Linked DNA regions of Homo sapiens. The protein of the gene in region 2 purifies or fractionates together with the protein of the main gene of each other region. This does not show direct contact. Each region holds a gene or a part of one and is shown on either strand. Other genes may lie near its edges.

What was found.
Region 1: the proteins of ZFP62 (region 2) and LIN28B purify together in Homo sapiens (co-immunoprecipitation; one large-scale study listed by IntAct). This does not show direct contact.

The regions. Positions count from the first base shown.
Region 1 is NC_000006.12:104,955,472-104,959,933, forward strand, and holds the start of LIN28B (protein lin-28 homolog B), read left to right. Parts: upstream 1-1,635; 5' UTR 1,636-1,779; coding exon 1,780-1,789; intron 1,790-2,627; coding exon 2,628-2,815; intron 2,816-4,462. UniProt on the Homo sapiens protein: Suppressor of microRNA (miRNA) biogenesis, including that of let-7 and possibly of miR107, miR-143 and miR-200c.
Region 2 is NC_000005.10:180,851,027-180,854,845, forward strand, and holds part of ZFP62 (zinc finger protein 62 homolog), read right to left. Parts: intron 1,035-3,819; exon of another isoform or gene 962-1,034; intron 468-961; coding exon 1-467. UniProt on the Homo sapiens protein: May play a role in differentiating skeletal muscle.

The DNA.
Region 1 (4,462 bases), on a different chromosome or scaffold from region 2:
AGCTGAAAATAACTTCTATTTTTTATACATCCATTTTCCAATCTGAGCCAATTAAATTTATATTTAGTTGTTTAATATGGGGAGGGAGTATAAATAGGTGTATACAGCTTTTTCCATAGCTCTTCGATTCATAATCCCTACATTTTAGCTTGTGTGAAACAGTGCTGGAGTGTGGATGTGTTTGAAGAGACTGGGAGGGGGATTGCTGGCATGGTGGGGGAGGGTCAACTCGGTAGCTTTGTCGAAGGAAGTGGTATCTGAACAGTTAGTTTCTTGGTAAACTGCTTGTTTAAGAAAATGGGGGGTGGGGTAGGCAAGTCTGGTGGTGCATTTTAAGGTTTTAAAATAGCGATATTTTATATTTTAAAGGAAATAAAGTCTTTTTAGTTAATCTATAATATTTATTATAGTATTCGATAAGGGCAGAAATACTGTTGCCAGCATCTTGTAATCAATCGTTTGAACCAGTTTGAAAGGTAAAGGGGGTAGGCATTTTGAAACTGGGGGTCAGTTGAGGAAGGACAGTAGGAGCTTCATCCGTTGTTACATTTTCGTTTATTCAACTCTTCTAGCCATTGGTAGTGGACTTTTAAAATGTCAGGGTACAAGTCAATATGATATGAATTTACCTTTTTTCTCCCACTTGTCCTTCTTTCTCCACCCCACCCCCTGCCCGCGCCGGCTTTTTTTCTCTCCCACCTCTTTCTTTGACTCTGCTGCCGCCTATCCTGGCGGCTCCTCTTCACCTCCCCTGCCTGGCGATCCCCTCCCCCTCCTGCCCTATGTCCTCCAGCTCTTGGGGAACAATCGCCACTGATTGAGGTTCACTCTATGTTAGGCTGGAAAACTGGGCTGTTATTTAGGAAGTCATTAATCACATCTCCTCCCCCGGAAAGAGATGGCAGAGAAACCTGTGAAGTACAATTCCTTACCAACCCCCTCTAAAATTTTCCAAAATGGTTTACCTAAACACAATTTGACTATATGAAGGTGAAAACGATTTTTCTAGTAGGATTTTATTTTAAATTTGAAAAAATTTCGGGCATAATCAGGTAATTTATGTGCCTCTGCCTTTTCCTAGGTGTATGTTTTCATTATCTAAAGTTTCATGGGGATGTAATTAGGTTTAATTAGATCTTTTATAAATTATATATTTTCCTCTAAGAATTGAATTAAATATGAAATTAGCGTTCCAAGCAGGTTTACTGCCATGGAATAGCTGAATTCTTAAGGGGAAAAAAAGCGTTAACATCGGTTGTTTTATTTAAACGACCCCCTCCCATGATTTTAGTCAGGCTTGTGTGTAAGGCACGCGTGTGCACATATATGACTGCCTTTTTTTCTAAATCTATGATTCACAAGGTCCCTCCATTGTGTTTAAGTAGAAGCACGAAATCAGCATTCTGATTTATCCTAAAGAAGCGTTCCAAATTGTCTTTAAGATAACATGTTTGAGTTTTTCGTGTTCATTCATAAATTATTTTGATGTCAGCATAGATGAAATGGCGATTGGTTATCTCTTCCTCTTGCCAGCCCCTTAAGGATACGAGGTGAAATTAGTAGCAAGAAAGCATGTAATTGACAAAGTCACGTGTGCTCAGGGGGCCAGAAACTGGAGAGAGGAGAGAAAAAAATCAAAAGAAGGAAAGCACATTAGACCATGCGAGCTAAATTTGTGATCGCACAAAATCAAGATGTTAGATTGATGCAGAAGATCACTCCGTTCCAAAGGGAAAGTTTTCATCTCACGAGTTTGGAGCTGAGGGCCCGTGGGGCAACATGGCCGAAGGTTAATTTTCTTTTCTATTGTTTTACTGTGAATTTCTTTCTTCTTTTCTCCTCCCCCTCCCCCTCTCCCACCCTTCTTAGACCGTCCCCCCCTTCCCCTTTTACCCCAATACTGGGCATTACCTCCCAACCCCCCATCACGCAGTGGGGCTTTCTGCAAACCTATTGTTATAGATCTCCAAAAATGTTTTGTACCGCCCACACTGATTCACAACTTGAAAAGCTTTCAGGGGGCTATTGTTTGAATTGTGTGAGTGTGATTAAGCGCAGTTTCAGTTAGTGATTCCAAGAAAACTTTTATACACCTGCCCCCTCCCCCATTCCACCCCAACTTTAATTGAAAGTTATGGGGGGGAGGGGAATGCACATTGCAAATAACGCTGGATTCAGTGCTGCCCCATGTGCCTTAACTAGTAGCTCTAAACCATCTTCACGATTTCTCTTTCCTCCTCGTGCCCGCCGGAGAGAATAGTTTCGCTGAAAATTTCTCTTTGTCAATGGGATCAGTATTAAATCAGCAATATACAAGTAAAGTATCGCATGCTGTAATGTAAAATGTGGCTGAAAAATGGAGTTAAATGAATAAGTACACGTATGTATAGAAACGTGGAAGTTGGTGTGATCGATAGAACAGTGTGGCTTCCCCCTCCCCCGCTTTCCTTTTAACCCTTTTCATTTTAAGTATTTTCTGTGGAGAAAAGAAATCAAACCATTAAAAAAAATTTTTTTTTTCTGTTACCCTTCCCCCCCAACCCCAGGCAGGCAATTTTTTTTTTTTAATCTTTGAATGCACATTGAATGGGAATACAGACTGACTTTTTTGTCCTGTTCCTTCTCAGGCGGGGCTAGCAAAGGTGGTGGAGAAGAGCCCGGGAAGCTGCCGGAGCCGGCAGAGGAGGAATCCCAGGTTTTGCGCGGAACTGGCCACTGTAAGTGGTTCAATGTGCGCATGGGATTTGGATTCATCTCCATGATAAACCGAGAGGGAAGCCCCTTGGATATTCCAGTCGATGTATTTGTACACCAAGTAAGCCAAACTTTTTTGTCCCCCTCTTCATCTTTTTCCATGTGGAGGAGCTGATCGGTAGTTATGCCAATAGACGTACGATAAGATGTCCTTCGGTATATTGAAAGACAAAATCTTCCCTGAAATCACTAGGTAGTCCAACGTTTAGGGTACGTGTATGGGCCTTTTCCTGGGTTTTCTGTCTAAAGAGAAAAGAAAATATTTGAAATTTCACTATATATATTAAGGTTGACGTTATTAGCATTTCCCCCTGCTTCATTCTACAGCGAAATAGTGTTCTTGTTGTTTCCGGTATTACCTATACAATATACTTTGTCGCCTGTATCTGGTGAATGGGTAGAAAAATGAAGAAACATGATCATTTTAAGGTTGAAAAAACAAAGCGAAACAGTTTGCTGTGGAAAGAAATGTATAGATTGCCTTATTTTAGACACCTCTAGTCACAGTAGCTCCCTTTATTATTTCATCGCTGCCTGTCCTGTAATCATTTTGTAGATTCAGATCAAAATAATTTGACTTCATAGTAAAATAAAATAGAACACTGTTGGCCTAATGTGGTTGTAAAGAAATGCGTGCAATAGAGGGATGCTTGATAAACATTTTAGAAATGTGCTCCGTGTAGTCATTGGTCTACGTATACTGTCTCTTTAAGAGACTGAACTCAAAAAAACATGTGGCCAGAGGCGGCTCTTGCTTGTGTGTTTAAAATGTGCTGGTCTGCTACTTGGGGTAAATTTCCACCTTTGCTCGTATTGTGTTGTAATTTTTAAAGATGTTTTAATACCAAACAGAATTTCATTGCTTCCCATTTTCAAAATTTTACCCAGGAAATAATGAATTAATACTTCTGCCTTTACTCCTCTCTACTGCTTAATCCCTTTATAGTAAAAAAGATACTTTTATGGAAGCCGGTTGTTTCCTCAAAAAAAGGTAAATATAAATTTTCTGTAGTTAGAAATAAAGAGGTTTACGACTAAAGAGGTTTATTTTGGCATGATAATCTAAGTTAAAAAGAATTGAATGAAAGGCTGTTAATACTACAGATTGACTGACAGATACATGGGTGAAATATTTGGTATATTTGCTTGAAAAGTATATATTTGATACTGTGTTGCATGTTCCTAGTAATATTTATACCCCCTTCCCTAAGGAATATCATCTTCAAATTAAATATATAAACAATAGAAACATATGAAACCATTCTGTTTTGATCTGTTGTCCTGTGGTGCTTGGTAGCTTCCTGACCTTGCTGTGTGGTGTGTGTTTTCCTTTCCTGAAGGCCTGGCCATCATTATTGGCTGTTTATATGTGGAAGGATCAGCATAATCTGTGAATTGAAACAGGGTTTAAGTACACAAATACAAGTCCACATACAGACTACTGGATTTTATGCTTCCTATTTTATAGTGCAAAATGAAGCTACATTTTCTGTTTTTTCCCCTCTAAGACTGGATGACAAAAATCATAGACAAATCCATTTTCTCTCAGGCTCTTTCTTCCACCTTTGAACCTTCTTTAGGTTGTTAAATTGTTTTTTATGATCTCATAAATTTGTTTTATAGATGAATGAAAAAAATAACCCTTCTTTGTCTGGTCACGCCTTTTTATAATTTGATTTTCTATGTTTACCTTCTAAAATATTCATCA
Region 2 (3,819 bases):
AAGGCGGGAATTATATTTGAAGGATTTCCCACATTCATCACATTTATGTAATTTCTTAACAGCATTGGTTTTCTGCTGTAGACTAGGGTAGGAGGTTCCATTAATGTTCTCCACACGTTTGCCTTGCTCACTGCCTCTCTGTCCTATAGGCATAGTCTGGTGTGTGATATGCTGTGGGCTCAGATGCAAGCTCTTCTCAGATGCCTCACCTTCCTGTTCTGTCTTTATATTTGCTGTACTCTTGGCTTTGCTGATTGCTTCCCTGATGCTGCTTTTGTCCTCCTTCATCCTGTTTTCCACAGGCTTTTTCTGTTGATTCTCTACCTTGCTATCCCAAACACATGTGTCACCAACCTTAGATTCAGGCATAGGATCCTCCACTTTTGGCCACTTAGATGCTGCATTTCCAACATTTTCATATTCTTCAGTTGGTTCCTCATCCTCAGTGCTCGTCTTCAAATGTGACACTAAACCAAGAAAATGAAAAGGACACCTATTCACTCTCTTAAAAAAAAACAAAAACAAACTGGAATAACAATGAACAACATTCACTTGACAAACATTTACTGACAACATACTGTGTGACAGGTACCATGTGCCATGTACCGGTTTTTAAGTACTAGGGATACAACAATGAATATGACAAAATTTCTGCCCCTGTGGAACTAATGTTAAAATGCTAGAACCCTGGATTTTCAATGGAACAATGAGCTTTTCTATTCTTGCATAACAGCTTAGCATAGGGCAGGGTGAAATGATGCACAGAACCATGGGCAACACCAATCAGTTTTTAAACAATGTCACCCAGTCATGGAAAAACAAACAAGAGGGCAGAAGAAATCTCTGAAGAAGACAGAAAAATTCATAAGTAGGACAAAAGTTAGGTAAAACTTTTTTTTATTATGAAAAGTTAGACAAAATCAGCAGAGGACAGACAAAACTAAAGAGAAAAAATTAGTACCTGGGGAGGGGTATCAGGGAGAAGGCTATGAAACCATGAAGACAGTTACTGCAGAGATGAGGAAGAAGGCAACCTGCATATTAAAATATATTATTAAACGTCTATAATTAAAATAGTATGGTCCTGGTACATAGACAGGCAAATGGAATAGAACAGGAAGTCCAGACATTGTCCCAGGTAGACACAGAAATTAATGATACAGATGATATCTGAAATTACCAGAGAAAAGATGGTCCTTTTAATAGTGTTGTAACAACTATGAAGCCATATGGAAAAAGATAAAATTAAGGCTGGGTGCAGTGGCTCACACCTGTAATCCCACCACTTTGAGAAGCTGAGGTGGGCGGATCACGAGGTCAAGAGATCGAGACCATCCTGGCCAACATGGTTAAGCCGTCTCTAGTAAAAATACAAAAATTAGCTGGGCGTGATGGCACGCACCTCTAATCCCAGCTACTTGGGAGGCTGAGGGAGGAGAATCACTTGAACCTGGGAGGCAGAGGTTGCAGTGAGCCGAGATCGTTCCACTGCACTCCAGCCTGGTGACAGAGCAAGACTCCGTCTCACAAAAAAAAAAAAAAAAAAAGATACAATTAGATCCCATTCTTCACACCATACACACATGAATAAACTCCATATGGAATAGAGCTCTAAATATAAAAAAGCTGTACAAATGCCAGAAAACATGGGTAAATGCCTCTCTGGCCTGAGTATAGAGGAAGCTTTCTAATGATGACTCATATGCAACAAAAGACTGATACATTTTCAAAAACTGAAGAAAAATAAACTACAAATCATACAGGAAAACAGGTAAAAAGATGAACAAACAATTCTTTTAAATGGTCCTTAAACATTCGACTTGATTCATAATGAGAGAAAGATAAATAAGAACTACTGTAAAACACCACTTCTCACCTGTCATATTAGCAAATGTTCAAAGCTTGACAATACACTGTTGATAAGGCTGTGGAGGAAACAGGCACTCTCATACACTGCTGGGAATGCAAACTGGCACAGCCCCTTTTAAGGGGAATTTGCCAATATCTATCAAAACTACATATGCATTTACCCAGAAGTCCTACTTTAGGAATTTATAATGAAGATACACCTCCAACAATATAAAAAACATACATGCACAGAGTGACTCATTATAGCATTAATTGTAACTGCAAAATCTGGAAACCTACATAAATCTCCAAGCACAGAAGACTGGTTAAATAAACTGGAGCATATACACAACGGAGTACTGAAAAAGGACGAGGAGCGCTTCTGAATTGATATGGAGCAATCTGTATATCCTAAAGTCAAAAGGTCAAAGTGAAAAAGAGTAATATACATGCTACGTTTCGTGTAGGAAAGAAAACAGGAAAACAAGCACGTATGTGTTTCTCTTTATAGCAACGATAAACCAGAGAACAATGAGGTTCATCACCTACAAGGGAGGAGTGTGGAGAATGGAGCAGAAGGGATGGGAGAAAGAGAGAGACTCCGAGTATATAGCCTTTTTAATAGTTTTTACTATACAAAATACATAATATTCTACATATTCAAAGAATAAAATTAAACATCAGTGAGGATGGGAAAGGAGAAAAACTGCTAAAACAAAACAAATCAACCTATTTGCATTTCCCATGAATACCACAATCGCAGGAAGAGAACAAAAAAGAAATACAGAAGTAATCCAGGCAACTTAGAAACGTATTTGACTACGTAAGTACATTCAGTCTGGGGAAAGCTGGAGGCGGGGCAGTGGGAAGAGGTACAAATAATTCAACTGTTAGCAGGTTTTCTGTAGAGGTATGAACAAAGCGATTCTGAAACAACTTTAGATGTATTAAGAACCTGAGTAAATGTGTTGATTTTGTTGGGCTCAGGGCTCTCCTAGAGAAAGGGACATAAAAATAAGCAAGAGAAGAAGGCGAAAATGAACCTTGGGATGAATTTGCAGTACTGGTGTGAACTTATGATTTCTAAATCACATATATGTGCATGCATGTATATTCAAGCCTGTATGGCTGTATGCATATATTTGCATATATTTCCTGATTTCCTAGTTCTGTTTGCTGAAAGCCCAAAAAACAAAACACTCCAGTGGTAATGAGCACATCTAGTACCCCATTCTGGGTCTACTATTACCATTATTTACTAAAAGGAACCAGAGCTCCTCAAAGAAATGGCTGATTGCAGGCTGAAAGCAGGAAACATACAAGATGAGCATCATGCTATACCAGCAAGTAAAGAGAGGCTCAAAAAAAGGGTAGGGACACGCTGCAAGACCCAGCTTGAACATCCAGTGTTCAAGCACCGTAATAACTAAGTATAGTGATACATTATAAACCACTGAAGATAGGATTTCATGAGTCTACACAGGTACAAACAGGGGAGAAAGGGAGGCCTCTTGCTTACAGCAGAATGTGAGTGCTGGTTGATAAATGTAGAAGGAATACCAGAATTGGAAAAGTCAGCACTCTGCAACTATCAGAGTAAAGACTGGATCAGGAGAGAATCATCAGTGAATTCTACGTCTAGGAGGAAATTCTGACAAGGAGCAGGATATCCGCATGGTCTTAAATATTTATAATGCTTAAATTATTTACAAGGGGGAAAAATACAAGAGTGGAGAGACAATGCCTTGGCCAGGTGTTCTAATTTAACACCTCCAGAGGGGCAGATAGACATAATATGCTTTTAGTAGGGAGAAGGACACATCACCTATGAGAATGCATTACATGAACTGAATCACCAGGTAAACCCAAAACGAACAATGTTTTCTACTAAAACAGAGGGTGGAGAGAAGAGGGGGGACTGTATTTTTCAAATACATCATTTTCATAAAAGACAAAGAAGAGCTGTACAAA